7 separate regions of the Homo sapiens genome follow, and regions 1, 2, 3, 4, 5 and 7 are each linked to region 6. Evidence: fine-mapped expression QTL. A gene starts in region 6. Each other region holds a variant in brackets. All regions are shown on one strand. Distances are from middle to middle.

Region 1 (4,065 bases), 630 kb before region 6:
GCTTCAGGAATTAACAAGAACTTAGTAGTAACCAACTTATTCTTATATTTGACTTCGGTTTCCTCTAGAGTTTTTGCCCTGAACCCTCCCCTTTAACTCCTGAGACAGTATGGTCTTCTGCTGACCAGGCTAAACCTGATGGGAGAAAACATAGCGGGAAGCAAGCCGCTCCCGAATCTACTAAGAAAGTGACTGTCTCCGATTTGGGTCCCACTGTTAAACTTATCAAGGGCTCTTGGTGGGACACGAGATGGAAGATGTAGAGCCCCTGACCCCCCTATTCTTCAAACGTCATGAGTGGAAGGACTTTCTTTTCCCTCTCCCATTTGGGACATTTCCTCTTAGAATGTCCTGGCTTTCCACACCTGAAACATCTGTTTTCCCTTCTTCCCCTCCCTGTTCCCTGACTCTTGGTTTTCATCCCTTTGCTTCCTGTATAGGGTCTGGCAGCCAGGGTACTTAGAAGGTTTACAAGTTCTAGTTCCCTGGGCTCCCTGTTGAAGAGTTCCCTGTTGTAGGGTGTACAGCATAATTTTTGCATCTTGCTTCTGCCTTTCCTCATCCCTTCATACATATACCTCTTGGGCCTCTCTTAAAAGTTCTTCTATGGGACGGTCTTTCCAATATTCTATCTTTTATAATTTCTTTGTAATGTCTGGCCAACTATTGGTGACAAAGTGGAGCTTTAACATCCCTTGTCCCATTGGATCCTCTATGTCCAAACTTGCATATTTCCTTATCTGTTCCTTAAATCTGTTCAAGAATTCCATGGGTCCTTCATCTTTCCCTTGTTGTATATTAAATGCTCGGGAAATATCTTGGGTTTGAGGAATGGCTTCCCAAATCCCTTTAATTATCATATCTCTGAGATCTCTCATGTTTTCTTGGTGGGCCGCACTGTTATTATTCCATTGAGGATCCTGGGCTGGGAATTTATGCTCCACTGCAAGGACATTTTGACAAGAGGGGTGCTTGTGCTCCTAGACTATCACAGCGGCCCTGCGGATCATGGTTCTTTCCTAAGAAAAGAATACCTAGAATAGACATTACTTCAGCCCAAGTGTACAGTTGTGGCCCCAGAAATTGGTAAATTTGATCTGCGACTCCAAAAGAGTCATCTAACTGGTTTGAGTTCCTTTTCTTTAGATTTCTAACCTCTGAACTGGTTAAGGGGGCATTTATGAAGCCAATATCCCCTCCTCCTAGTGGTTATTTCCCTTAAGGGAAAAAGAGTTGGGGCACACTTCTTTGAGGAAGAGGGGAAACGAAAGTTTTGAATATCCCTTGGCATTGTTCTATTTCCCGTTGGAACTTTCCTGAGGAAGGGGCATGTTCGGGTGGCTGTCCAATGGGGGTGTGGGGTGTCAAGGCCCATGGGGCAGGGTTATATGGGGGAGGGACTGAGTGTTCAGCTTGGGGCAGAGGGTTAGGCGGGAGAAGGTGGTCTAGAGGATCCCATGCATCTTTAGATAGGGGATATGACTTAGCTAGGTCGTCTTTGGGGGATTTTAAGTTTGGCTTTGCTTTTTCGTCCTTTAGGGGATAGAGAAGGAGAGGTCCTTGTCTCCAACATAGAGCATAATCTATCTCCTCTTGAGAAACTGGACTTTTATCATTGACATATTGGATCAGGAGTTGGCATATCCAGTCCTTGTTCAACCCAAACTTTGGCCAAAAGACCAAAGGTCTGAGGATGGGTTCCTTAGTCCAAATAAAACAGCAATACTTTATCATTTGTTGTCTTTTCTTGTGTTTGGTCCTTTCATTATCCTTGCAGTATTTTAACATAAGGCCTAGGGGCCTGTCGGGGGAATTTTATTGTCTGCTTGGCCTCTTATAGTCCCTGTCTTACTTGGGGTATTTCCCATCCTGGGGGCTGATGAGGCTCAATCTCTTGTATTAGAGATTTCTTGCACTCCCATATCCTAAAGGTTCAACCTCCCCTTTTCCCACTGGAGGTTTCTTTCTTTTTTTCTTTTTTTTGAAGACGGAGTCTCACTCTGTCACCCAGGCTGGGGTGTGGAGTGCAGCGGCGATCTCGACTCACTACAACCTCTGCCTCCCGGGTTCAAGCCATTCTCCTCCCTCAGCCTCCCGAGTAGCTGGGACTACAGATGCATGACAACATGCCCGGCTAATTTTTTTGTATTTTTATTT[A/AT]TTTTTTAAATTTTATTTATTTTTTTTTTGAGATGGAGTCTTGCTCTGTCGCCCAGGCTGGAGTGCAGTGGCACAATCTTGGCTCACTGCAAACTCCGCCTCCCGGGTTCACACCATTCTTCTGCCTCAGCCTCCTGAGTAGCTGGGACTATAGGCACCTGCCACCATGCCTGGCTATTTTTTTGTATTTTTAGTAGACGGGGTTTCACCATGTTATGCAGGATGGTCTCGATCTCCTGACCTTGTGATCCAAAGTGCTGCCTCGGCCTCCCAAAGTGCTGGGATTACAGGCGTGAGCCACCGTGCTCAGCCTTTTTTTGTATTTTTAGTAGAAACGGGGTTTCACCGTGTTGCCCTGGCTGGTTTCAACTGCCTGAGCTCAGGAAATCTGCCCACCTCGGCCTCCCAAAGTGCTGGGATTACAGACGTGAACCACCATGCCCGGTCCCCACTGGAGGTTTCTTGCACTCTCGTGAGCACTCACTTCGTCCTTATTGGCTAATTCCCTTGTGAGAATTTTAGGCCCCTGTTAGCATTGGCAGGTCAGTATAATCCCCCAACTGGAAAACGGCCCTAAGCCGTATGAGGTGACCATGGAACCAAGTCTGGACTCTGCACTCGCATCACCCGCAATGGCGCATCTCACTTACACACTTTCAACCTCCAGAGACCCTGACTACCAAGGAATACTTTGTTGCCCCAGTAGGGACATTTCTTACCTTGGTCTGTGCACAGAGTTATCTGGTCACCATGGAGTTCTTAAGGATCCTCCCTACTGCCCACGTTGCTGAGAGTCTGTATTTATTTGTCACTTCCTGGGGGAATCAATCCTCCACTCCTGGGGCCACCACAATGAGGCAGTGGGATGCATCTCCCCATAAAAGATAATTGCTAGCCACTCCCAAAGGAGAATGGGATCCCAGATGAGCCCCCAAATTTGTTGGAAACAAGTGGTTGGCATAGCCAAAAGAAACCTGCACTTAGACAGAAAATTTCTCAGCAAGGCATCTTTACTTCTGCAAAAGGGTGCTGCTTGCACCTGTTACAATCACAAGAGCACACCAAACAAAGGAGGGAAGGAGTTTTTAATCCTAATGCAGTCCCTGTGTCTGTGTCCTTCCCGTATTGGCTGGGGTTGGACCACAAAATCTAAGCTGATCCTAATTGGCTAACACTTAAACTTTTCCAAATAGCATAAATGCATGATTTGTGAAAAGAAGAAGGAAATGGGGGGTAGGATTGATTTACAACTTCTGTAACTTGTGACCGGGAAGTTGAGTCTTTGAAGAAGAACTTAGTTGTCCCAACGTTGCCAGTATATTCTTCCAATTTGTGGTTTATCTATACCTTTTATTTATTGTCTCTTGTTGAACAAAAGTTCATAATTTTAGCAATTTATCAGACTATTTATGTTTTGCACTTTTGGTGTGTGCTTAAGAATGTCTTCCCTCCCCGATATCATAGAAATGTTATATTTTCTTCTAAAAGTATTATATTCCATCACATTTAATTCTTTCAGTCACTAGGGATTAATTTTTGTGTACAGATTGGGATAGGGATCCAATTTCTTTTTTTGTTTTTCCTTATGTATAATCTGTTGTCATAACACTCACTATGTATTCAATAGATCATATTTCCCAGCTGATCTGCAGTATCAGCTCTCCCATGTAATGTTTTCCTTTGGGCTAGGATCAATTCTCTATTTAATTCTATTGCTCTATTCACCCATGCCTTACTGTTTTAATTGCTGTAGCTTTGTGATAAGTCTTGATATCTGGTAGGACAAGTTTCCCTATCTTGTTCTTCGTCTTCAGTGGTGTCTTAGCTATTCTTGGTACTCTTGGTTCTTTCACATAGATTTTAGAATCAGCCTGTTAAATTTTACACACATACACACACACACACACA
Region 2 (4,056 bases), 22 kb after region 6:
GGGCACAGGGGAAGCAGAGATATAGGTGAGGACAGATCAAGGTGGACTTGGGCAGCCAGGTCAGGAACTTGAGTTCTGTCTCAAGGACAGTGGGACTCTGGAAAGATCATAGCTCGGCCTGAGGACTAGACTCGTGGGGCAAAACCTGTAGAAGGGTAAAGAAGCTGCTCCATGATCCCTAATTTGGGGAGAGGGGCCTAAAGCCTGAACCTTGGCCCAGGGGTAAAGAGGGGCCCTTTGGGAATTGACAGGATGGAGGTGAGCTGTCTCAGCTCGTCTGCTATCCACCTCTTACTGGACTATGTCACCTGGCTGGTAGAAAGGTGGCATCTGTAGCCGACCCTAGGAGTTTCCTTCTTTTTTTTTTTTTTTTAGCAGAGTTTCGCTCTTGTTGCTCAGGCTGGTGTGCAATGGTGTGATCTCGGCTCACTGCAACTCCGCCTCCTGGGTTCAAGCAATTTTCCACCTCTTGGGTTCAAGTGATTCTCCTGCCTCAGCCTCCTGAGCAGCTGGGATTACAGGCATGCGCCACCATGCCCGGCTAATTTTGTATTTTTAGTAGAGACGGGGTTTCTCCATGTTGGTCAGACTGGTCTTGAACTCCCGACCTCAGGTGATCCGCCCACCTCGGCCTCCCAAAGTGCTGGGATTACAGGTGAAAGCCACCATGCCCGGCTGACCCTAGGAGTTTCTTAACCCCATTAGCCCAGTTGCTTTGCTCTTCCCTGGCCCCAGCCCTAATTCTCCTGCTGGCTGGAGATGTTTCAGAGCCTGAGCCCTCTAGGTAGGGCAGGTCCACGGCTCCTACCTGTCTGTCTCAGATTCTTTCTAGAAGAGTTGCCTTCCCAAGACTTCCTTCTCCACCCTGGTTTTCATACTCCTCCAGAAGTGCTTTGCCCTCCAGGTTGCCACACCCATTGGCGCCTGCACCATCTCCCAGTGCCATCCCTGCCTCTGTGGGGCCATTTTCAGGGCAGAGGTGAGGTCCCAACCTACATGGGGACACCCAGATTGGGACATCTAGGTAGATGCTGCACTTTGCCCTGATTTCTTGTAACCACTGCTGTAATTTTGCCTTTTTCATAAAACCACTACCATCTGCCCCAGCTTCCTCCTCCTGCCCCATTTCTCTCTTTCAGTTACCGATATCTTTGTGCCTTCAGACACGAGGCTGCAGAGTGGAGGTGCCTTCACTCGTTCATTGATTCAGCCCTTGGAGCCTCAGCATGGCCATGTCCAGACCTCAGCTGACCTGAGTCAAGCCTGGGCTTCTGGGGACGTGGACATTGACACAAACACATCTGTTCCTCCTGTGATTAGGGCTGGGGGACAGGATAGACAAGGGGTCAAATGCTGCCAAGGGGAGGGGGAAGTGGTCACTGAGGCTAGTACATGGCCACTGTGTTTCATCTCCACCACCATGCTCTAGTCCAAGCCACCTCCCTCATCTGGACGCTGCAGTGACTTCCCTTCTGGGCTCCCTGCTTTCAACCCTGGCTGCCCTCTAATCCATTCTCCACACAGAGCTGGAATGATCTTTTAAAAGTATAAATCAGGCTAGGCGCAGTGGCTCATGCCTGTAATCCTCGCACTTTGGGAGGCTGAGGCGGGTGGATCACCGAGGTCAGGAGCTCCAGACTAGCCTGGCCAACATGGCGAAACCCTGTCTCTACTAAAAGTACAAAAAGTCTTGACAGGCATGGTGGCGTGCATCTGTAGTCCCAGCTACTGAGGAGGCTTGGAACGTGGCTCCAATGTCACCTTCCCTGCTCACCCATTTATAAAACGGCCTCCTTT[A/G]TTTCTTTTTCTTTTTTTGAGACGGAGTCTAGTTCTGTTGCCAGGCTGGAGTGCAGTGGCGCGATCTCAGCTCACTGCAACCTCCACCTCCTGGGTTCAAGCAATTCTCTTGCCTCAGCCTCCTGAATAGCTGGGATTATAGGCAAGCGACACCACGCCCAGGTAGTTTTTTTTTTTTTTTTGAGATAGAGTCTTGCTCTGTTGCCCAGGCTGGAGTGCAGTGGCGCGATCTTGGCTCGCTGCAACCTCCCTCTGCCTCCCGGGTTCAAGCGATTCTATTGCCTCAGCCTCCTGAGTAGATTGAATTACAGGCACGCGCCACCATGCCCAAGCTAATTTTTGTATTTTTAGTAGAGACAGGGTTTCACCATGTCAACCAGGATGGTCTTGATCTCCTTACCTCGTGATCTGCCCGCCTCGGCCTCTCAAAGTGCTGGGATTACAGGTATGAGCCACCACGCCCGGCCTTGGTTTCTTGATTATCTCAAGCTGGGCCCTGCTTCAGAGCTTTCATGTTAGCTCTTCTCTCTGCTTGGAACACGCAGCTCCAATGTCACCTTCCCTGCTCACCCATTTATAAAATGGCCTCCCTTGTTACTCTCTTTTCTTTTTTCTTTTTTTCTTTTTTTCTGAGACGGAGTCTTGCTCTGTTACCCAGGCTGGAGTGCAGTGGCATGATTTTGGCTTACTGCAACCTCTGCCTCCCGGATTCAACCAATTCTCCTGCCCCAGCCTCCCAAGTAGCTGGGATTACAGGTGTCTGCCACCATACTCAGCGAATTTTTGTATTTTTAGTTGGGACGGGGTTTCAACATGTTGGTCTGGCTGGTCTTGAGCTTGTGATCTGCCTGCCTGGGCCTCCCAAAGTGCTGGGATTACAGGGGTAAGCCACTGCACCCGAGCCCTTGTTTCTTTCTTTCTTTTTTTTTTTTTTGTTTTTTTTTGACAGAGTCTCACTCTGTCGCCCACGCTGGAGTGCAGTGGCACAATTTCAGCTCACTGCAACCTCCGCCTCCTGGGTTCAAGCGGTTCTCCTGCCTCAGCCTCCTGAGTAGCTGGTATTACAGGCGTGCGCCACCACGCCCAGCTAATTTTTGTATTTTAGTAGAGATGGGGTTTCACCATGTTGGTCAGGCTGGCCTCGAACTCCTGACCTCATGATCTGCCTGCCTGGGCCTTACAGGCATGAGCCACCACGCCCTGCCCCTTGTTACTTTCTAATAGGTTACCCTTTGTTCTTTTTTTTTTTTTTTTTTTTATTAAGACGGAGTTTTGCTCTTGTTGCCCAGGTTGGAGTGTAATGGCAGGATCTTGGCTCACTGCAAACTCTGCCTCCTGGGTTCAAGCAATTCTCCTGCCTCAGCCTCCCAAGTAGCTGGGATTACAGGCATGCGCCACCATGCCCAGCTAATTTTGTATTTTTAGTAGAGACAGGGTTTCTCCATGTTGGTCAGGCTGGTCTTGAACTCCCGACCTCAGGTGATCCACCCTCCTGGGCCTCCCAAAGTGCTGGGATTACAGGTGTGAGCCACCTCGCCTGGCCACCCTTTGTTCTTTGTAGCATTATCACTCTCTGAGCTCTTTGATGTTTTTTTGTCTCCTCCACTAAACCATAAGCTTCCTGAGAGCTGTGCTTTGTCTTGTTCATCACTTGTTCTTGGCTTAGAGGATGGTGCTCCACAAATTCTGGGATGATAAAGTGTGGCTGTGTGAGGGGCCAAGGCACTGTGCTGGGTGCTGGCAGTGACAAATGAGGCAGCCCTGGCCCCTGTCCTCGTGGAGCTCACATTCTGGAGGGATTTGTTGAATGAACAGAAGGGGGACAGAGAGTTGTGCTAATGAAGACCTCTAAATATTTAATGTCTGGAGTGATAACATGACTTTTGATCCGGAAAAAAGGGGAAAGGGAATTCTAGACCACATTTACTGAGTACCTACTATGAGCCATCTACTTTCTGGGCACTTCACAGTCATGCCATTTAATCCTCTGTGAACCCTATGATGGGCATTTTTGCCCCCCTTTTACAGAAAGTTTACGTATCTTGCCCAGGGTCCCACAGCTAGAAGTTGGGGGCTTGGAACCGAAAGCTAGGCCAGTCTGTCAGCAACTGCATGAGGTCTTTCTGTTGATGCCAAGCCCCAGTGAGTACGATGGCCAGAAGAGTGAGAGCACAAATCAGCCTCCTCCTCATACCTCTCTGACCACCAGTGTGCTGGTGGCTACTGCCTGTTTTCATGGCCTTTCCCCTTCTCACCGGG
Region 3 (4,065 bases), 62 kb before region 6:
TAATGATCAATAAATACTAAGGGAACTTAGAGTCCGGCGGGATCCTCCGTATGCTGAACGCTGGTCCCCTGGGCCCCCTTATTTCTTTCTCTATACTTTGTCTCCATGTCTTTTTCTTTTCCAAGTCTCTCGTTCCACCTAACAAGAAACACCCAAAGGTGTGGAGGGGCAACCCACCCCTTCATTTTTTGTTTACAACTTTTGGAGACAATTTTTCAACATGTCTCAACTTTCTGACTTATTACAAACTTTTTTTCTTTAAACAAACAGTTAATTTATTTCAGGACAAGAATTTACCATATAACACTCTTTTTACATAAATTTTGCCTGCCCCCCTTTTTTTTTCTTTTTTTGAAGATAACCATTCCTTATGTCTTTGGACTAGACTGTCCAAGGCCACAAGATTAGAAGTTACCATAATACATGTTACACTGTTAACTTTTAGCAAACGTCACTTTTGTTGAAAACCTTGTAAGTTTGGGATTTCAATTATCCTTTGCTATTAATAAGACCTTGTTTAGTCTAAATTAACTTAGAATTGGTATAGATGGCCTCTTTTTCTCTCTGCTGGTCTTTCCTTGCCTCTGCCAGCCATTTATGCCGCTATTCTTTTTTTTGAGATGGAGTCTTGCTCTGTCGCCCGGGCTAGAGTGCAGTGGTGCGATCTCAGCTCACTGCAAGCTCCGCCTCCTAGGTTCATGCCATTCTCCTGCCTCAGCCTCCCCAGCAGCTGGGACTACAGGTGCCTGCCACCACGCCCAGCTAATTTTTTTTTTTTGTATTTTTAGTAGAGACGGGGTTTCACCGTGTTAGCCAGGATGGTCTCGATCTCCTGACCTTGTGATCCGCCCGCCTCGGCCTCCCAAAGTGCTGGGATTACAGGTTTGAGCCACCGTGCCCGGCCATTATGCTGCTATTCTCTTGACTGCTGTGGGGGGGAAGGGGGTCTAAAACCAGCTGTAACTGTCTATGTACAGAAACTGGTCTGGGTGCCTTGGCTTACAGGTGGCCTTCTGTCATACCTTTGAAACAACGGACCTGTCCAGGCCAACCCACCTCTAATGCTGTCCAGTCTATTTCACACAAAGTTTTAAGTTTTCCTGGTGCCACAGTAACACCGTAATCTCCCTTAAATTCTCTCTTGAAATTCTCTTTTTAACATAGTTCCTAGTGGGGTGGGCTTATTTGCCTGACCCATGCTGCTTTTTTTTTTTGATACAAAATACCATGCTCACATCACACACACTCACCACAAGACAAAGAACAGGTAAAAAGGGCACACATACACTTTTACCGTTTATACCAAACCAAAATCACGAAATTCAAAATCCGAGTACCAAAAAATCCAAGACAAGTCAAAACCAAAACCAAAGTATCCAGCAATTCAAGTCAAGTTAAAACCAGAACAAAAGTGCCAATGCAGACCCGCCATGGGTGATCAGGCCATGCTTCCACTCAGATGGAGTGGGGCAAGTTCCAAAGACTAGTCTTACCAAGTTTCAGATGTCCGGACTCCAAGTGCCAGTTCCTTCCTGGTGTTCAGCCACTGTGTTAATCCTCTGTGGGGGCCTGCTACATGCTGCTCTGGCGACGCGTTCCACTGGGGCAATTGCCTACCCGGGAGCACTCTTTGGATCGCGTCACTCAAGCTGTCTGGAGTCCCCCACAGGGACGCTCCACAGGGCAGG[T/C]TTAAGCCGGCCGTCAGTCACCTCGCTTCCCGGTCAGGGAACCAAGAAATGTAGCAGGACAAGCCGCAGACAAAAACCTCTCAGACACCGAGTTGTAGAAGGAAGGGCTTTATTCATCTGGGAGCATCGGCAAGCTACTGCCTTAAAATCCGAACTCCCCGAGTGAGCAATTCCTGTCCCTTTTAAGGGCTCACAACTCTAAGGATTTCACATGAAAGGGTCGTGATTGATTTGAGCAAGCAAGGAGTACGTGACAGGGGCTGCATGCACCGGTGCTCAGAGAGAAACAGAACAGGGCAGGGAGTTTCACAGTGTTCTTCTATACAATGTCTGGAATCTATGAATAACATCGGTTTTTAAGTTATGAGTTGATTTTTAACTACTGGGTTTAGGTCAGGCAGGCCAGGGCCTGGTTTCGGGCCTGGCGCCGGGCTGCCTGTCTTTGGTTTTACTTCCTTGTTTTTTTTTTTTTTTCTTAAAACAGGTACTGAGTATAAAACAATATAAAACCATATGAGAAGTTCTCTCTCTTCCCTCAAACTCTTATAAGACTTAAAGTTGTGGCCGGGCACGGTGGCTCATGCCTGTAATCCCAGCACTTTGGGAGGCCGAGACGGGCGGATCACGAGGTCAGGAGATTGAGACTATCCCGGCTAACACAGTGAAACCCCGTCTCTACTAAAAATACAAAAAATTAGCTGGGCGTGTTGGCGGGCGCCTGTAGTCCCAGCTACTCGGGAGGCTGAGGCAGGAGAATGGCGTGAACCCGGGAGGCGGAGCTTGCAGTGAGCTGAGATCGCGCCACTGCACTCCAGCCTGGGGGACAGAGCGAGACTCCGTCTCAAAAAAAAAAAAAGTTGTTATTTCACAAACACAAAACTAAATAATATTACAAGGCTGAGTATGTGCAGTATTAAACTATATTTGTTATTCTCACCTGGTTTTTACCTTTCCTAAGACTTTTAAATAGCGATTCTATTATTACTAATTTTTGGCCCTTGCTTGTTTAACCTCCTAGTAACATTTGTGTCTTCTAGACTACAATAATTCCACATGAAAACAATGCTGGCACAAGACTTCTAACCCATCCCATCTTCTGACTTAGAAAATAAAAACAAGCAGCTATTAGACCCATCAGATTAGGTATCCAGAGATTGTCACTCCTCCAATGCTAGGCAGGGCCTATGACCATAAAATTAGCAGAAAACAGCTACAGAAGATGGCCCTCTTCCCTTCTGCAGCCCATTTAAGGTCTTTTTAAAGAGAGAGTCTCACTCTGTCCCCCAGGCTGGAGCGCAGTGGTGCTATCTTGGCCCACTGCAACCTCCTCCCGAGTTCAAATGATTCTCCTGCCTCAGCCTCCTGAGTAGCCTGGACCACAGGCCTGTGCCCCACGCCCAGCTAATTTTTGTATTTTTAATACAGATGGGGTTTCATTATGATGGCCAGGCTGGTCTCGAACCCCCGGCCTCAAGTGATCTACCTGCTTTGGCCTCCCAAAGTGCTGGGATTACAGGCCTAAGCCACCACACCTGGCCGCCCCTTTAAGATTAAGGAGGAGTATCTAATCTCTGAGGGGGAATGAAGTAGGGGACTGGCAGGAATTATTTCCAGCTCCCAAGGTGCCGCTTAGATAAAATGAAGAAACCGGCAGGAACCAGCAGATGGCAACAAAAACCATCCCTAGCTACCCTCACTGGTCATTAGCATAAGATACTTCCTCTGGGGCATATTTACAGATGCTATGGCAATGACCAGGAAGTTACTGCCCCTTTCCTAGAAAGTTAGGAATAACCTGCCCCTCAATTTGCATTAGCCTGCTTCTTAATTTGCATCTAATTAAAAGTGGGTGTAAGTGGCTATAAATACAGTTGCTAACAGGACAAGAGCGGCTCTGGGCACACTGCCTATGAGTTGTCTCTACTCTACAAGGAGTAGCTCCAGTTCAATAAAAATTGCTGTTTGACCACTCATGGTGGCTGATGCCTCCAATAACAGCACTTGGGGAGGCTGAGGCAGGAAGATTGCTTGAGCTCAGGAGCTTGAGACCAGCCTGGGCAACATAATGAGATCTTGTCTCTACAAAAAATACAAAAATTAGCTGGTCATGGTGGTGGGCACCTGTGGTCCCAGCTACTTGGGTAGCTGAGGTGGGAAGCTTGTTTGAGCCCAGTAGGTTGAGACTGCAGTGAATTGGGATTGCACCACTGCACTCTAGCCTGGGTGGCAGAGTGAGACCCTGACTCAAAAAAAAATTGCTGTTTAACACCACCGGCTCACCCTTAAATTCTTTCCTGGGCAAAGCCAAGATCCTTCCCAGACTAAGCCCCAGTTTTGGGGCTCGCCTGCCTGTCTGCATCTAAACCACAGCCCTGCA
Region 4 (4,065 bases), 68 kb before region 6:
GGCCAACATTGTGAAACCCTGTCTCTACTAAAAACACAAACATATTAGCTGAGCGTGGTGGTGTGCGCCTGTAGTCCCGGCTACTCCGGAGGCTGAGGCAGGAGAATCGCTTGAACCCGGGAGGTGGAGGTTGCAGTGAGCCGAGATCTGTGCCACTACACTCTAGTCTGGCAACAGAGCGAGACTCTGACTCAAAAAAATAAAAAATAAAAAATACACACACACACACACACACACACACACACACACACACACGAGTAATTTTACATGAGGTAAAATCTTATGTGGTAAATTCTTGTCCTAGAGTGAAATGACTGGTTATTTATTTTATTTTATTTATTTATTTAGTTTTATTTTTTGAGATGGAGTCTCGCTCTGTCACCCAGGCTGGAGTGCAGTGGCACGACCTCGGCTCACTGCAAGCTCCGTCTCCTGGGTTCACGCCATTCTCCTTCCTCAGCCTCCCGAGTAGCTGGGACTACAGGCGCCCGCCACTGCGCCCGGCTAATTTTTTGTATTTTTAGTAGAGATGGGGTTTCACCATGTTAGCCAGGGAGGTCTCAATCTCTTGACCTCGTGATCCACCCACCTCAGCTTCCCAAAGTGCTCAGATTACAGGAGTGAGCCACCGCACCTGGCCTATTTTATTTTATTTTTGAGATGGAGTTTTCCTCTTGTTGCCCAGGCTGTAGTGCAATGGCACGATCTCGGCTCACCAAAACCTCCGCCTCCCGGGTTCAAGTGATTCTCCTGCCTCAGCCTCCCGAGTAGCTGGGATTACAGGCATGCGCCACCACACCCGACCGATTTTGTACTTTTTAGTAAAGACGGGGTTTCTCCATGTTGGTCAGGCTGGTCTTGAACTCCCGACCTCAGGTGATTCACCTGCCTTGGCATCCCAAAGTGTTGGGACTACAGGCGCCCACCACCACGCTGACTAATTTTTTTGTATTTTTTTAGTAGATACAGGGTTTCACCGTGTTAGCCAGGATGGTCTCGATCTCCTGACCTCGTGATCTGCCCTTCTTGGTCTTCCAAAGTGCTGGGATTACAGGCGTGAGCCACCGTGCCCGGGTGATAAGTTCTTAAAAGAAACAGGTTATAGTATTGAAAAGCAAAATTTCTTGTAATTTTTTTTTTTTGAGACAGAGTCTCACTCTGTCCCCCTACCCCGAGAATCAATTACAACCAAAATAAAAGAGCCTTTAATAGGTATTGTTAAGTACCCCCAACTACTATTAACCTTTAGGAAATCACTAGCTGGGTACACCTGTCCAATATTAAACCTGTTTCTTATGAGTCCCTGTAGGAGTAAAAGGAGGACATCATGACCTACACTTGTGAACTTGTAGCAGGATGAGCCGCAGACAAAACCTCTCAGACACCGAGTTGTAGAAGGAAGGGCTTTATTCAGCTGGGAGCATCGGCAAGCTACTGCCTTAAAATCCGAACTCCCCAAGAGAGCAATTCCTGTCCCTTTTAAGGGCTCACAACTCTAAGGATTTCACATGAAAGGGTCGTGATTGATTTGGAGCAAGCAAGGGGTACGTGACAGGGGCTGCATGCACCGGTGGTCAGAGAGAAACAGAACAGGGCAGGGAGTTTCACAATGTTCTTCTGCACAATGTCTGGAATCTATGAATAACATCGGTTTTTAAGTTATGAGTTGATTTTTAACTACTGGGTTTAGGCCAGGCAGGCCCAGGCTTGGTTTCGGGCCTGGCGCTGGGCTGCCTGTCTTTGGTTTTACTTCCTTGTTTTTTTTTTTTTTTTTTCTTAAAATAGGTACTGAGTATAAAACAATATAAAACAATATGAGAAGGTCTCTCTCTCCCCTCATTTCCCCCCTTTGAGACTCTCACTTTCTATTAGTGGGAGTTCTGACTTTTATTTTTGCTACTTATGTCTTTTTGTGCAATAGATTGATAGTGATTTATATAGTACACTTGTGCTAAAGCATTTTGGTGAACTAAGATAGTGATGAAGCTTTTTATCATTTGAAGAAGTACAGGTAGCAAACAAGGAAGCAGTAAACAGGTTCTTATTACTATTATAAATTCTATTATAAGAGTTTTAAATCCTTCTAGTGCTGGGAACTAATTTTTAAACATGGCTTCAGGATCGAATTCATGCTACACTTGCATGGGCACATGTGTCAGTTTTGTCATATTTTTAACTATGTCTTTA[A/G]CTACTTGCCTTTGATTATCTATGTGTAGACAGTAATTAGTAAGGTTAAATTTCTTATAGACCTCTCTTTCAGCTGCTAGCAAGTAGTTGAGAGCCAATCTATTTTGATAGATAGCATTTCTTATCTGAGTTTCTTGCTGGGCCAGAATAGTCAAGGCTTGACTGGTTTTACTAGTGATGATTTCTAAAACAGCTTGCAGCTGTATGATTCAGTTGAGCATGTAAGTGGGGGTCCAGTATCCCCATGAGCCGTCTTGTGTCTAAGTGGCAGGCCTATAGTATTATATAATTTTTTTTTGAAGGTCATTTATCATCTTTCCAATTTCCTATGGCTATGCTTCATTTTCCGCGGGAAGCATAGACAGGGAAGCCCAGGAGTTTGCCTGTTTTTATGGTCAGTAGAAAGAAAGATGGTTTAATAGTGCCAATAACACAACTACCTGTCCACTGGTCAGGCAGCTTAGCTTAAGCTCTATGTCTACGTATTCAGTATAACTTGGTGGGGGCAGTCCAGTCCCGGTGGAATTCCAGGTGGGCCCAGACAGTCTGCAACCTTGGAAATTTACTGAATGGATCTCTTTCTATATAATTGGAACTTCACCATGTAACTGTTTTTTTGCGGTACCATTATACAGTTCTTGGCCCAAACAACTAAGACATCCTATAGAATGAGTGAATTCTTTCTTTTTTCTAGCTATGTAATATTGTCCAATAATTGAGACTTTTAGAACCTAGAGATGATCAGGGTGATTCTTGTGGGCCAGGAATTCATCAGGAACTGCGTCTGTAGGCACTAATTCTTGGGCTTTTTATGGCCATTGAGCTCTTATTACAGTTTTTTCACAAACATAACATGAAGTGACATTTAGAGACTGGGCTACACGCTCGGCTAATTGCAAAAACAAATTTCTGGTTTTTCCTGGAGTCTCTTGGTACTGGCAAATTTAGTTCATCATAGAAAGTCTGAAATACTGGTTCCAGAGAGAGTTTACAAAACTCCTCTTTTACTAAGATATTTGCTGTAGGACCTAGTCTTTTCCTATTGATGCCCAGAGATACGTGTTCTCCTTTTTTCTACCTTGGGTTTAAGGGATTTGTAATTATTAATTTCAAGGGGTTCCAATGTCCACTCGTATAGGAGGGGCTGCATTCTCCTTTTTGGAGCTAAACAGGATCTTTTTCATCCTTTTTCTAAGTAGTCTAGATGACACAAGACCAGTAATTACACACATTTGCACATGAGCTTAATTCATGGCAGATATACTTATTTCCTGCCGTGTAAACTTTTTTTTTTTCAACTTAAAGAACTGCATCTTATTTTATGCCAATTACTATTGATAGTGGCACAAGCATTAAATTTTAGGGTTATATGCTTGGAGACCCCTCTTTCTTCTGTCCTAGCTATTACTTTACTTGTGTCGCCTAGAAAAGGACCAGTCATTAATTTTATTTTAAAAACTGATCATGGGAGGCTTAAAATGGGTCATAACACGCATCAGGTTGGTTATTTCCTGGGCTACATACCTTGGATAGAATTGCATTATACAAACAACTTTTAGAGTCCTGGTACACTTATAATAACCATAAAATAATAAGACTTTAGCAATCTTTTGTCCCTCAGTGACTTGATGTATATACTGGGAACAGCCCTCAGTCTTAGGAAGGTCAGTTGAAGTCCTTACAATACAAGTCCAAATTTTAAGGAAAATGAGTCCCCTGCTATGAGTTTCCTCATGCTTCAGCTGTGTGTGGACCAGTCAGCTTCCGGGTATGACTGGAGCAGGGCTTGTCGTCTTCTTCAGAGTCACTTTGCAGGGGTTGGCGAAGCTGCTCCCATCCGCGTACAGCTCCCAGTCTACTGCTGTTTAAGGATGGTCT
Region 5 (4,065 bases), 65 kb after region 6:
CTACCACCACCTCTGGGAAGGGGCATCTGAGGGCTTTGGAAGCAGACAGAGCTGGGAACCAGGCCCTGCTTCTCTGCCTGTCCACTCAGTGGCCTTGGGTAGTGACAACAGCAACCATTCCCCCAGAGATCTCACTGGATCACAGTGTTTCTATTCTCCTACAAGGCCCACGCTGTAGGGGTCCTGTGAGTTGGCATGATTAACTCACGAATGAGAAACTTGGGGCTCAGGGAGGTTGCCTGGCTAGAAAGAGGCAGGTGGAGTGCGGAATTGAACCCCAATCCATCAGACTCCAACAGTCACACTTGTAACCACTGTACTACTCTGCCTTCCTAGATTGTAAATGATTGTCTTCCTTTCTGCCTCCCTGGTTTCAGTGCTGTCACCAGCTGTGTGGGTCTAGAAAAAGTGACTTCCCTTTGAACTTTGTTTATTTCATCTGTAAAAAATGGGTGAACAACAGTTGCCCAGGGCAAGGGTTAGGGTAAGGAGAATTTTAGTAAGTATTTGGCTTAATGAATACTCATAACCACCCCTGCAATATCTGCAGACAACTTAGCCTGGGGGGTGGGGGTAGGAAGGGATGGGGCTGAAGGGGAGAGAAAGATGCCAGATTTTCCCAGGAAGCAGCTCATGAACAGACCACAGGCCCTTCCTGGTGCTTGGGACCTGGACACCTCTAGACTGGCACCTTCCCCTGCCTTCCCAGCTCCATGCCTGGACACCTCTAATAGGAAAGAAGCTCATGGCCACTCTCAGGGCCTGGAGTGGGGCTGATGGGTCTCCCAACTCTGGGAAGGGGTGTCTTGGGCAGGTGAGGGTCCCGCTCCCAGGCCACTCCTTCCCATCCCGTACTGCAGCCAGGCTCTTGCTGCCTGTTCTTAGTAGTTGGAATAATAGATGATTATGAGGCTCTGGAGGGCAGCTGCTGAGAGGTAATGGGCTGTTGCCCTACCTTACCTTTCCCTAGGTGCCCCCAGCTCTGCTCCCTCACAGGTGCACGTTGATGCCCCCATCCCCCAGGCTCAGGCTGCACCTGTCCCTGCTGCCACACAGGGTGTTGTGCTGCTTGGCTGCCTGGGAGCTGGTGCTGGGTGTTCTCTCGGGGTCCCATTGCCGTTGCTGACATCACAGCAAGAGCCTCACCCCAGCCTCTGCCTGCCTCAGAGGACGGCTTGCCAGACAACCAGAGGGAGCTGGAGAGTGCCACCCACTCCTTTGCCCTTCCTCCTTTGCAGCCCACCCCAGCCAGGCTTCACAGGCACCAGACCAACTGCTCTGAATCCCACCATGACTCCTCAGCATCCCCAGGGGAGAGCCAAATCCCTCAGCTGGCATTCAAGGCCCTACACAATCTGGCCTCAGTTTGCCTTCTGGTTTCTCTCCTGGCACACTCTCCTGAGCTCCACTCTGTCTGCCTTTGCCAAGCTGTGGGTTACCCTTGTATCCTTGCCTAGCACCCCCTCTAGATTCAGCATCGGCCTGAGAGGTGGGGAGCCTCTTCCTCTTCAGCCCCCTCTGCCCCGTCCTCACCTGGTCCTAGCAGGGAGCTGGTAGGGATCCTTCTGGGACCCTGGTCCCTGGCTGGGGGTGGGGGTGAGCCACAGAGGAGGAAAGGCTGAAGGGTGGGTGGTGCTCTCAGCCTTCCTCCAGTTGTCTGGCAAGCCATCCTCTGAAGCTGGCCTAATTCCCTTCAGAGCCCGGCTCCCATCTTCAGGGTGGGGCTTAGGGAGCTGAGAGCCCAGCGCTAATGCCTAAGAAAGTCGTGGGTGGATTAGAAATCGAGGGGGATTAGGGCCAGAGCTGGTGGCTGATGCAGGAGCGGAGCCCCTCCCTCTGAGGAAGAGGAGGCTAATCCTGCTTAGCGACTGAGGAGCTGTCATGCTGACGGGGGCTTCTTCCCATCCACTTGGGCTGCCCAG[G/C]CCCAACAGGAGCAGCATGAACACCCATCCACTCCCTCTGTCCTCCAAACTTTTTGTCTCGTGTCCCTCCAAGCCATCCTGCTCTGCCTTGTCCTCCACAGAGCCCCAGCCCTCCACATAACCTCAAAACTTCTCATGCTGCTGTGCCCACCAAAACTGCCCCATCTAGCCATGTCCACCAACATTCATTACCACCTACATCTCCATGAACCGAGCCATCGCTAGGGCCCATTCATCCCTCTGCCCAGAAAGTCTGCAGTGGATGCTGTGGTGCTGCCCAGATTGCCCTTGAGGGCCGAGACATTCCTGCAGTGCTGGGAGTGTTGGCCGCTGTGGCCTCACGGTTGAGTTCCTTCCCGGGGAAGTGTCCTCAGCTGCCTCTCCCAAGGTTATGTCCCCTTGTTGGGGGCAGTCCACAGGCGACTGGTCAATGCGGGAGTCTGGCCTCCCCACTTCAATCTGGGACATCTCTGAAAGGCCATCCCAGCAGCAGAATGGGATGTGAGACTGGCCAAGGCCACTGTTGCAAGGGCAGCCCAGTTCAACCTCTCCCTCTGGCTGTTGCGGTGTCCCTACTGCCTCACCAGGCCATTGTTCCCCAGAGCATTCCAAAGACCCCACTGCACACTCCCTTCCTGATCTCTGCAAGAAATCTCACCTTTCACTTTCTTAAGTCCCAGGTTCGAGGATGGAAGATTAGATTGATCAGGGAAGGGTCTGGATTAGGAACTTCTGACCTGGATATTGAGTGAGGACCAGCAGTCCCTTCCCTGGGGATTAATCCTCCTCAGGGCTCCTTTAGTTTTAGTGGTGTAGGTAGCAGCCCCATGGGCTGAGAAGGGAGAGAGGTGCTGCCTTGGAAAGCCAGTCTGGGATCCTGGCCTCAAGGGGGAGGCAGATTCTGTCTGGGGAGCTGATTAAGGAATGGGAGCTTCATCTGAGAGTGGAAACAAATCGTGCCTCCCTTCAACTCCCCATGAGTCTGGCTTGAGAGGAGAGGCAGAAGTCTGACTTGGGACCCTGCTCTGAGCAGGGAGGAAGGACTCTATAATGAGAGCTGAGTCTGAGGGTGCAGGCTGGCCTCTAGACCAAGAGAAGAGGCCGGTGCCAACCCAAACTGCCTGCTCTACTGGGTCCCTGGCCCCACCATCAGCTGGGTCTTCGCTTGCCAGCCTTGGCTGGCTCTTCAAGCAGGCAGCCAGTGTGATGCCTGCACTGGGGGAATGGGTCTATGTGTTAATAATGGGAGGGCATTGGAGAATAACTAGAGAGGGTGTTGGAGAATAGCTGGCTCCTTGGTGCCATCAGGGTTGAAGCTCTGTGGGGATGGAGACCTTCCTGCATGCAGGGCCTCTGAAAAATGCTGGTCCCAGGGTAACTTGAGAGCAGGGGCAGGGAAGGGGATGGATTGACCTTTGAGAGTCAGTTTGGGATGTGGGGTCAGTGGAGGGGGACCACTCCCACTCTGTTCCCTACCTTTGATGGACAAATGCTAATGACATTACCAGCGATTGACTAGAAACGAATAAATAATTCAGTCTGGCCTGAAAATGGGAGAAAAGTACTTAAATGCTATTGACAAGCCAGTCCCTGGTCTCATTACCCATGCAGACTCAGGCCTCCACATCGACCATGTCCCCCGATTCCTCCAAACCCCACTGTGGGCAGCCTCAGGCTTCCCTCCCACCAACCTGCCCCAAGTAGCGTGTGCGGAGGGTTACCTGAGGAGACCAGGTGGAGGGCTGAGGCTTGTGGCTCAGACCACAGGGACCCCACTGCCCAAAGGACAGCAGTCCCCCAAGTTCTTCCCCTTTTCCCAGATACTGGCAGCAGCGTCTCTTCACAGGCAGGGCGGTCCTGGGAAGTCCCTCTGTAGCCCCGCTCCAGGTGTACATGCACAGGGGTACAGGCGGGCACTCACAGGGACACACAGAGCCCGCCCCACAGCTGCGGCATCCTCTTCCAGGACACAAGAAGAACAGTGACCCCCAGGGCGGCTGTCAGTCACTGTGCTCTCTGGGAATACAAACTCATTAAACGTTTCCCTGCCTTGTCCCAGGGGCCCTAGTCCCCGAGTCAAGCCTGAGGAGAAGGAGGAGGAGGAGGAGGAAACAAATGTGCAGCTGATCCTTTCAAAGCACAT
Region 6 (4,065 bases):
GTCTTGATCTCCTGACCTCGTGATCCACCGGCCTTGGCCTCCCAAAGTGCTGGGATTACAGGCATGAGCCACCACGCCTGGCTTCTGTCTTTCTGTCTCTTTCTCTCTCTGCCTCTCTTTCTCTCTCTTTGCCTCTCTCTTTCTCTCCAACTTCCTCTCCCAGTTTCTCTTTCCTCTCTGCTGGTCTTTCCCTGCCTCTGCCAGCTGCTTATGCTGCTGTTCTCCCCTCTCCTTCCCCTTCCCCTAGGGAAGGGACCGTCAGGAGTGCAGCTACTTTTTCTTCCCCGAGAAGAAAGGAAAGGGGAATTCTGAATATTTTTCTTACTACCGGAGGTTTGTGTGAGGTTTTTGATCCCCTGAAATTTGTGGAAGGCTCAACACCTCAAACCAGGGGGTATCTTGCCTTGCCTGACCTGGAAGGCTCAACCCCTCAAACCAGGGGGTGTTTTGCCTTGCTGCCCTGGAAGGCTCAATCCCTCAAACTAGGAGGTGTCTTGCCTTGCTTCCCTGGAAGGTTGACCTGTTTCCTCCCTTTCCCCCTCTGAAGGTCCTTTGCACACTTCCCACTCGTGTTGTCCTCTCTGGCTGCTCCCCCAAGGGAGAATTAGGCCCCCCTCAGCATTGGCATTCCAGTAGAAATCCCACCGCAGGATCCTCCCTAAGCCATATGAGGTAGCTACGGAAACGTGGAGAGGACCCACTCACTCCGTCCAGCAGTAGGACTTGTCATCATCCACACGAACAACACCACAGGTAGGGTTGTTTGTGATCATTCACGCACACACACATTTAGCCCTCCAGAATTTGACCACCAAGGAAGTACCTTACCGGCTCCCTCGGCTTCTTCCTTTGTCTGTGCACAGAGTTGTCTCTGCAGTGTGTGAGGATGCTTTACCCTAGGTTGCCTGCTGGTTTCTTTTCACATTGCTGAGAGCTCAGGTTATTTCTTGCACTGGGTGAGTCCTGATTTCTCACCCCTGAGGCCATCACAAGAGGGTGGGGCATACCTCCTCAGGAGAGAGAACCAGAGACTGCCCCTGAAGGGGAATGTAATCACGAGCAAGCCCCCAAATTGTTATAAATAAAGTTTCCCCCCAGTGCCGCAAAAGAAATAGCACTCGAATATAAAATTTTCTTTTTTTTCTTCTCAGCAAGGCAATTTACTTCTATAGAAGGGTGCGCCCTCACAGACGGAGCAAAGGTGAGCGCACACCTGGACAAGGGAGGGGAAGGTGGTTCTTATGCCTGACCCACGTGATTCCTGATGCTGTGTCCTTCCCCTGTTGGCTAGGGTTAGACCTATAGGCTAAACTAATTCCGATTGGCTAATTTAAAGACAGTGAGGGGGTGAGTGGTTTGGCGGGAAAAATGGTTACCGCAGAGCAGGAAATCGGAATGAACCACGGTGAAGAATGAGTGAGGGAGGAGCAGGTAATCGAAAAATGTTGCTTTATGAGGAAGTTAAGTTTAAAAGTAGAAGGCAAAGAATTGAAGATACTGACATATTGATTCTTTTAAGATAAATTTAGAACTCATATCTAACAGCTGGCATGTCTGGCATGGGGCTCCGGCTGGGGCGCAGTCTTCAGCATTTGGGGCTCTGGGGTGCAGGGGGCAGAGGACGGCCGGGGCTGTGGTGCCCAACCGGTGCTAAACTCAAGCTTGGGAGGTCGCCCACGAGAAACAGTCGCCCTTCCCCACCCGCCTGCTCGGCTTGGCGGGGAGCGGGATGTCGCTGGGGGCGATGCCAGGCGGGCCGCCTCTGATAGCCTCTAGGCTCTGGCGCGCTTCCCCGCCCCTCCCGCGCAGGCGGGCGTGGGATCCCGGCTGATCCAGTCCGGGTTTTGCGGCGGAGCGGGCGGGCTGCGCGTGCGGCGGCTTCAACTGTCGCGGTAGGCAGCAGCAGGCTGAAGGGATCATGGTGCAGTACGAGCTGTGGGCCGCGCTGCCTGGCGCCTCCGGGGTCGCCCTGGCCTGCTGCTTCGTGGCGGCGGCCGTGGCCCTGCGCTGGTCCGGGCGCCGGACGGCGCGGGGCGCGGTGGTCCGGGCGCGACAGAGGCAGCGAGCGGGCCTGGAGAACATGGACAGGGCGGCGCAGCGCTTCCGGCTCCAGGTGACTGCCGGAGCGTAGTGGGATGGGCGCGGCCTGAGGGTACTCGCAGCGGCACTTTCAGCCGCCGGACCCGCCGAGGGACAGGGGATGGGGCGGGCAGAGCAGATGTGTAACTCTCCAGAATCTCTCCTTGCCCTAAGATATTCCGCACTTTCTGAGCCAGGTAGAGCACGGGGGAAGAAAGGAAACGGTAGTGTCAAGGCAGGTGGTGGAAGGCCTTTCCCTCACTGGGTCAAAGAGGAGTTTTGCTTTGTGCCAAAGAATCTCACGATTGCTGCCTATTGGAATGCGAAAACGCAAGCGTGACAACCAGTGGGATGCCAGGGGTTGAGGACTTTGGAATCGCAGAGTGTAATGGCCAAGGGGATCTGGAGAGCTTAGAGTTTTGTTTTTTGTTTTTTTTTGTTTTGTTTTGAGACGGAGTCTCGCTCTGACTCCCAGGCAAGAGTGCAGTGGTGCGATCTCGGCTCACTGCAACCTCCGCCTCCCGGGTGCAAGCGATTCTTGCTGCCTCAGCATCCCCAGTAGCTGGGATTACAGGGGCCCGCCACTACGCCTGGCTAATTTTTGCATTTTTAGTAGAGACTGGGTTTCACCATGTTGGCCAGGCTGATCTCAAACGCCTGACCTCAGTTGATACACCTGCCTCGGCCTCCCAAAGTGCTGGGCGTGAGCCACCGCGCCTGGCTGAGTTCAAGCTTCTTGATTTGTGCATTTGGATCCTAAGAGGGAGCCAGAAAGAAACCTGCCAAGTGCACAGGGAGATCTTGGCAAAGCCAGGCTAGAAGGGAAGTCTCTCTGGCTCCTGCTGTGGTGTCCAACCCCTGGCAAGCCCTTTCCATGAGCAGGTTTAGTTCCAGCCCTCCGTGGGTGGTCTGTCAACAAGCTTTTCTCCCTGCGCTGCCTTTGGATCACCTCAGTATGTGGGTTTGGAGGCGTGGAAGGGCCTGGCTGAGGGTTTGGAAGATGTGGCTTGAAGAGGGGCTTTTCCTCTGGGTGTGTGAAACACTGACCCCAGTTAAAGCCTTCTTATGTGCTGAGAGAGGGAGGGCTTGCTGTATCTGTGGGACCTGACAGGTGGGAAGGCTTTACAGGTTGGGAACCGCAGGACTCAGGAGGGTGTGCCTGGGTGGGAGACAGAAAGAGTCACAGAAAATTGTGTTCAGCAGATGTTCCGCAAGTGATTTTTGAGTTGGGGCAGAGCTGGAACTAGAACCTAGGTGCCCGCTGCACTCTGCAGCCACACTTTCGTGGAGAGGAACAGGAGAGAGATATGAGGAAGGCACCTTGCATGCCAGCCCAGGGTGTAGCCCTGCATGTTGAAGGGGGCCAGCCCCTCCACACCTGTGGGTATTTCTCCTCAGGTGGGACAAGAGACTGAGAAAAGAAATAAGACACAGAGACAAAGTATAGAGAAAGAACAGTGGGCCCAGGGGACCACCGCTCAGTATAGGGAGGACCCGCGCCAGCACTGGTCTCTGAGTTCCGTCAGTATTTATTGATCACTATCTCTACCATCTCGGTGAGGGGGATGTGGCAGGACTATAGGGTAATGGTGGGGAAAGGGTCAACAGGAAAACATGTGAGCAAAGGACTCTGTGTCATAAGTTTAAGGAAAGGTGCTGTGCCTTGATGTGTATGTAGGCCAGATTTATGTTTGACTTTATACAAGCATCTCAGTGCAGTAAACAACAGTATTGTCACCAGCATGTCTCACCTCCAGCCATAAGGTGGTTTTCTCCTATCTCAGTAAATAGAACGTAGGATCGGGTTTTACACTGACACATTCCATTCCCAGGGACGAGCAGGAGATAGATGCCTTCCTCTTATCTCAACTGCAAAGAGGCCTTCCTCTTTCACTGATCCTCCTCAGCACAGACCCTTTACGGGTATCGGGCTGAGGTATGGTCAGGTCTTTCCCTTCCCACAAGGCCGTATCTCAGGCTGTCTCA
Region 7 (4,065 bases), 28 kb after region 6:
TCATTTGTACAATCATCACAAGAACATGCATTCAACATTCTTCGGACACCAGCCTCTGTGCTAGGCGACCACAACACTTTGAAGACAGAAGCAGTCCTGTGTACTGTGCACCTCTGCCAATATCTGTTTACAGGAGATAGCTGCCATGTCCCTGTCCACCCTCCCTTTTCTCTCCTGGCGATTGCGATATTGGAGTTTTAGGACACAGCCAGAGCACTTGTCATTTGTTCCTGTTGGACACCATTTTTAGGATTATCCCAAGAGCTCTGGCTGTTTCTGCTCTTCCTCCCAACATGTGCTTATCCACAAATCTGAGCACTGGACCTCTGCAACTTCATCCAAGTCACCCATAAACCTATGGATCACAGCAGACCAAGGAAAGGGCGTGACCTACACCCTTAACAGACAGACACATAACCGAGTTTTGAGCTTCCCAGCCAGATGTATCTTTAGTTCACATTTCTCTGGCTGGGCTTAGCTGGGCCCTCCCAAGTTTCCTACACATAGATTTGGGGTGGCGGCCCTGGGCACCTCAGGAAGGTGAAGCCACTTGGGATCGGGCTGTGTATGCTCAGCACCCAGCATGGTGCCTGGTACTCAGTGGGTACCCAGAGAAGGCTTGTTGAATGGAGCAATGGGTGACTTGTTATTAGGGAACCCATTTTGGTCCATTCTGATTACTTCCTCTTCTCACCTCCAATAGGGAATTTTCCAATCAGTCCCTGACCCTTTGCTCCTTTCACATTTATTGTATCTACCTCCATGATCTTTTTTTTTTTTTTTTTTGAGATGGAGTCTTGCACTGTTGCCCAGGCTGGAGTGCAATGGCAGGATCTCGGCTTACTGCAACCTCTGCCTCCTGGGTTCAAGCGATTTTCCTGCCTCAGCCTCCGGAGTAGCTGGGATTATAGGCGCCTGCCACCACGCCCAGCTAATTTTTTGTATTTATAGTAGAGATGGGGTTTCACTATGTTGGCTAGGCTGGTCTCGAACTCTTGACCTCAGGCAATCCACCTGCCTCAGCCTCCCAAAATGCTAGGAGCCATGATCTTGATTAGTGCCCATGAGGACAAATAATTCCCAGTCTACATTCAACCTATAGCTTTCTCCTGGTCTGTAGATCCTCATCTATCCACTTCTCTCATCCTCTTAACTCCTTCATCTCTCTCAGGCTGTTGAAAGAGCTTCTTTGTGCTTCTGCACTTGGTAGAAAGCAGGGACTGTGTCTTAATAGAATCCAACATCCGTTAGGCTGTGGAGTTGAACCCATTATCTCCTTTGTAAAATGGGCTTATTATTTCCATTTCATATATAAGGAAACTGAAATTCAGAGAGGGTTGCTCTCTGAACAACAATGGAGGGTTGCTCCCTCCATTCATCCTCCCATCCATGCAATAAAAATATTGAATTCTTCCCACAGTATGTTCAGGGTAACCAATCAGAAATAGTCCCTGCCTGAATGGAGCTTCCATTCTACCAGGAAACAGACATCAAATGTAGAATTACACAGAAACACTCGTTAGAAGTGCAATCAAGCAGAAGCCCTGGGTATTATGAGAATAAACCACGTGGGA[T/C]CTGATCCAGCCTGAGATGTGTGTATGTGTGTGTCAGGGAATGCTTCCTGGAGGAAGTAACATTGAAGCTGAAAACTGCATTGTCACCTGAGCCAAGGAATGAGTGTGTTTCAAGGAGGGTGAAGCTGACAACTCTAAATGCTGCTGATTTACTCTTGAGGAGATCACTGGGATGATATAGGCACAAGCCAGACTTTGTTGGGTGGGGGAGTGAGTGAAAGGTGAAGAAGTAAAGGCAGCCCGTGTAGAAAACTGGAAAAGTTCAGGAAGCGGACAAAAGACGTGGTAGTAGTTAGGGAGGGTGTAAATCTGAGGGAATCATCCCTCATCCCCCAAGATAGGAGAGACTTAGCATGTTAAATGCTGCTAGGAAAGAGCTAGCAGCAACGCACAGAGGGGGGAAGTCAAGGTAGGAATGGAGGGCTCAACCTGCCATCATTTCTTCACTGAAGAGATACCATTGAACACATACCATGTGCCAGGTGTTTTGAAAAAGGCTGACAAGGTCTATGCTCCCCCAACCCCCCAGCTAATTTTTTTGCATTTTCTGTAGAGATGGGGTCTTGCCGTGTTGTCCAGGTTGAGCTCAAACTCCTGAGCTCAATTGATCCGCCCAAAGTGCTGGGATTACAGGCGTGAGCCACTGTGCCTGGCCTCGTCTGTGCTTTTACGGAGCTTATTTTCTAGGGAGGGAGGCAGGAGGTGAGTTACAGATCAACAAGAAAACTTCAGCTAATGATAAGTGTAATGATGAGATAAAATGAGGTATGTGGTAACGGAAGGGTGTAACCCAGGAAAAGGTGAGGTCACGAGGCCTAGAGTGCTGTGCCGTGGGATGTGGTGCGGGTGACAAGTGGCCTGGGGGAGCTGAAGATATGGGGGAGAGCTGGAGTTCATGAAGGTGGAGTGGGGGCTATGGAAGAAAATGGTCAGAAAAGAGGCAGAAGGACAGAGGAGGGCTGGTCTGGAGGCCCCAGGGAGATGACAGAGTGTTACAGAGTGGGCAACTTCAGGGTCACCCTTAGTCAACTGCTGACCTCGCATCTGTTCCTTTAGACCCTCGGGTACTCAGACTCAACATTACCAACCATGAATTCAGTTCCTTCCCACCCTAACCTGCTGCTGCCCTGGCTTCCTGGTCTGGAGGGCAAAGGCGCCATTCTCCTGGGTACAGTGACTTGCAGTCTCAGTGATGACCATTGAGATGGAGACTGGATGGAGGCCCCTGAGGAGAGCAGAATGGTTCCCACATCAGGGCCCCTCTGCACCACTTTTCCAGTCTCCTCATGTCTTCTCTGTTCCTCGTCTGGGAAGTCATCTCCCTTACCCCCACAACTCCCCTCCACCAGCAGGGAGAGTCAATAGACTGGGGAGGCTGGAACCCCGGATCAGAGTCATGGCCTTGCTTTGGAGTCAAGGGGGAAGCCCAGCTGGGCGGGCTGGTCTCATGTCCTGGCATCATCTCCCCTGGGGTGGATGCCTGATGAGCCCTGCCCGCTCCTCCAGGTGTTCTTTCCTTTCCTCTCTTCCTGTCCCCCAGAACCTCCACTCTAGGCAAACATGGCCTGTTCAGTTCCACCTCCATGCGTCTGCTTATGCGGAACAAAGGAGCTTTGGGAGAATCCTGAAGGCAATGGGAACCCCAGGAGCAACCCCATCCATAACTCCTGAGGGTTGGAGTAGGGAATCTGAGGGGTGGGATCTGAGAGGTAGGATGGGTGGGAGTAGGATGTGACAGAGGTGAGGTCAGCTGCCCAGCTGCAGGCTTGGGCCCTTCTTCAGGCTCGCCTGCTAAAGCCTCTTCCTCTGCATGGCCCGGGAGATAGGGGTTTTGTCGCCAGGAAGTCCAGATGGGGTAAGAACTAGGAGGAGGTTGATCACTGCCACACCCAGGGCCCGAGATGTGCGTGGGTGCCCTGGCAGCATCGCTGACAAATACTCCTGAGGAAACAGCAGCTGGATTCACACAGGTCGTGCAATACCTAAGGTGGCTTGGCTGTTTGACTCCCTGATGATGCTACTTCTGCTGGCCCTGCTGGGGGCTGGCCTACTGGGGGCTTCCCTGCTCACCTCGTGGCATGCTCCAGCCCGGAACAAGATCCCCAGGGCCCAGAAGTGGAGGGAGGTAGCACTGCAGAAGATGGAGGACCTGGCCCAGTGACTCCGGCAGCAGGTGAGTCGACACGGGTCCCGGAGGCCCCCAGCCACAGGGGGCCTTGGCCCTCAATCCCAACAGGAGGACTACACCTCAGGATGCCCCTCCCGTCCATGACCCCAGCCCCCGCAGACACAGGGAGCAGGTGGGCACTTCCCCACCCCCAGTTCTCCCCCCATGCCAGCTCTGTGTGTGGTTGTCAGTTCTCCTCCATCCCCGGCCTTTGAGACCCTGGAGATTGGGGGCAGTGTATTCTTTCTCTGTTCTCCCAGCACTTGGCACGTGGCTCAGTAACATGGGAGGTGCCCACTTAGGGTATTTGCGGAAATAAGATAA

Which allele goes with the higher level. Alleles are on the strand shown, and positions count from the first base shown. SD is a standard deviation of normalised expression in the study named. Not every link is listed here.
As copies of G replace A in region 2, the expression in unexposed skin of the gene that starts at base 1,887 in region 6 goes up (small effect, 0.32 SD a copy in GTEx).
For the expression in adrenal gland of the gene that starts at base 1,887 in region 6, C is the high allele of the variant in region 3 and T is the other (small effect, 0.26 SD a copy in GTEx).
As copies of G replace A in region 4, the expression in skin of the gene that starts at base 1,887 in region 6 goes up (moderate effect, 0.51 SD a copy in TwinsUK).

The links. PIP is the estimated chance that this variant, and not a neighbour inherited with it, causes the effect. A credible set is the group of variants that fine-mapping cannot tell apart.
Region 1: its variant is the best candidate, but not a certain one, in a credible set for the expression of FAAH in skin (TwinsUK, PIP 0.57).
Region 2: its variant is the best candidate, but not a certain one, in a credible set for the expression of FAAH in unexposed skin (GTEx, PIP 0.84).
Region 3: its variant is the best candidate, but not a certain one, in a credible set for the expression of FAAH in adrenal gland (GTEx, PIP 0.61).
Region 4: its variant is the best candidate, but not a certain one, in a credible set for the expression of FAAH in skin (TwinsUK, PIP 0.66).
Region 5: its variant is the best candidate, but not a certain one, in a credible set for the expression of FAAH in lymphoblastoid cells (TwinsUK, PIP 0.55).
Region 7: its variant is the best candidate, but not a certain one, in a credible set for the expression of FAAH in sun-exposed skin (GTEx, PIP 0.72).

The regions. Positions count from the first base shown.
Region 1 is chr1:45,759,108-45,763,172 of GRCh38, forward strand. LOC105378693 (a long non-coding RNA gene) reads left to right here. Exons shown (of 3, transcript XR_947290.2): 3 at 1,540-1,730. Among named protein-coding and RNA genes, the nearest start is that of IPP, 10 kb to the left of the region's middle. The variant A/AT (reference allele first, on the strand shown) is at 2,158.
Region 2 is chr1:46,414,649-46,418,704 of GRCh38, forward strand. No RefSeq gene overlaps it. Among named protein-coding and RNA genes, the nearest start is that of FAAH, 22 kb to the left of the region's middle. The variant A/G (reference allele first, on the strand shown) is at 1,798.
Region 3 is chr1:46,330,332-46,334,396 of GRCh38, forward strand. No RefSeq gene overlaps it. Among named protein-coding and RNA genes, the nearest start is that of NSUN4, 8.4 kb to the right of the region's middle. RefSeq lists enhancers at 1-613, 1,344-2,073 and a silencer at 3,609-3,658. The variant T/C (reference allele first, on the strand shown) is at 1,689.
Region 4 is chr1:46,324,201-46,328,265 of GRCh38, forward strand. No RefSeq gene overlaps it. Among named protein-coding and RNA genes, the nearest start is that of NSUN4, 15 kb to the right of the region's middle. The variant A/G (reference allele first, on the strand shown) is at 2,188.
Region 5 is chr1:46,457,299-46,461,363 of GRCh38, forward strand. No RefSeq gene overlaps it. Among named protein-coding and RNA genes, the nearest start is that of LINC01398, 9.6 kb to the left of the region's middle. RefSeq lists an enhancer at 667-1,534. The variant G/C (reference allele first, on the strand shown) is at 1,923.
Region 6 is chr1:46,392,431-46,396,495 of GRCh38, forward strand. FAAH (fatty acid amide hydrolase) reads left to right here and starts at 1,887. Exons shown (of 15, transcript NM_001441.3): 1 at 1,887-2,113. The coding sequence starts at 1,919. RefSeq lists an enhancer at 1,775-2,288.
Region 7 is chr1:46,420,274-46,424,338 of GRCh38, forward strand. No RefSeq gene overlaps it. Among named protein-coding and RNA genes, the nearest start is that of LINC01398, 27 kb to the right of the region's middle. The variant T/C (reference allele first, on the strand shown) is at 1,575.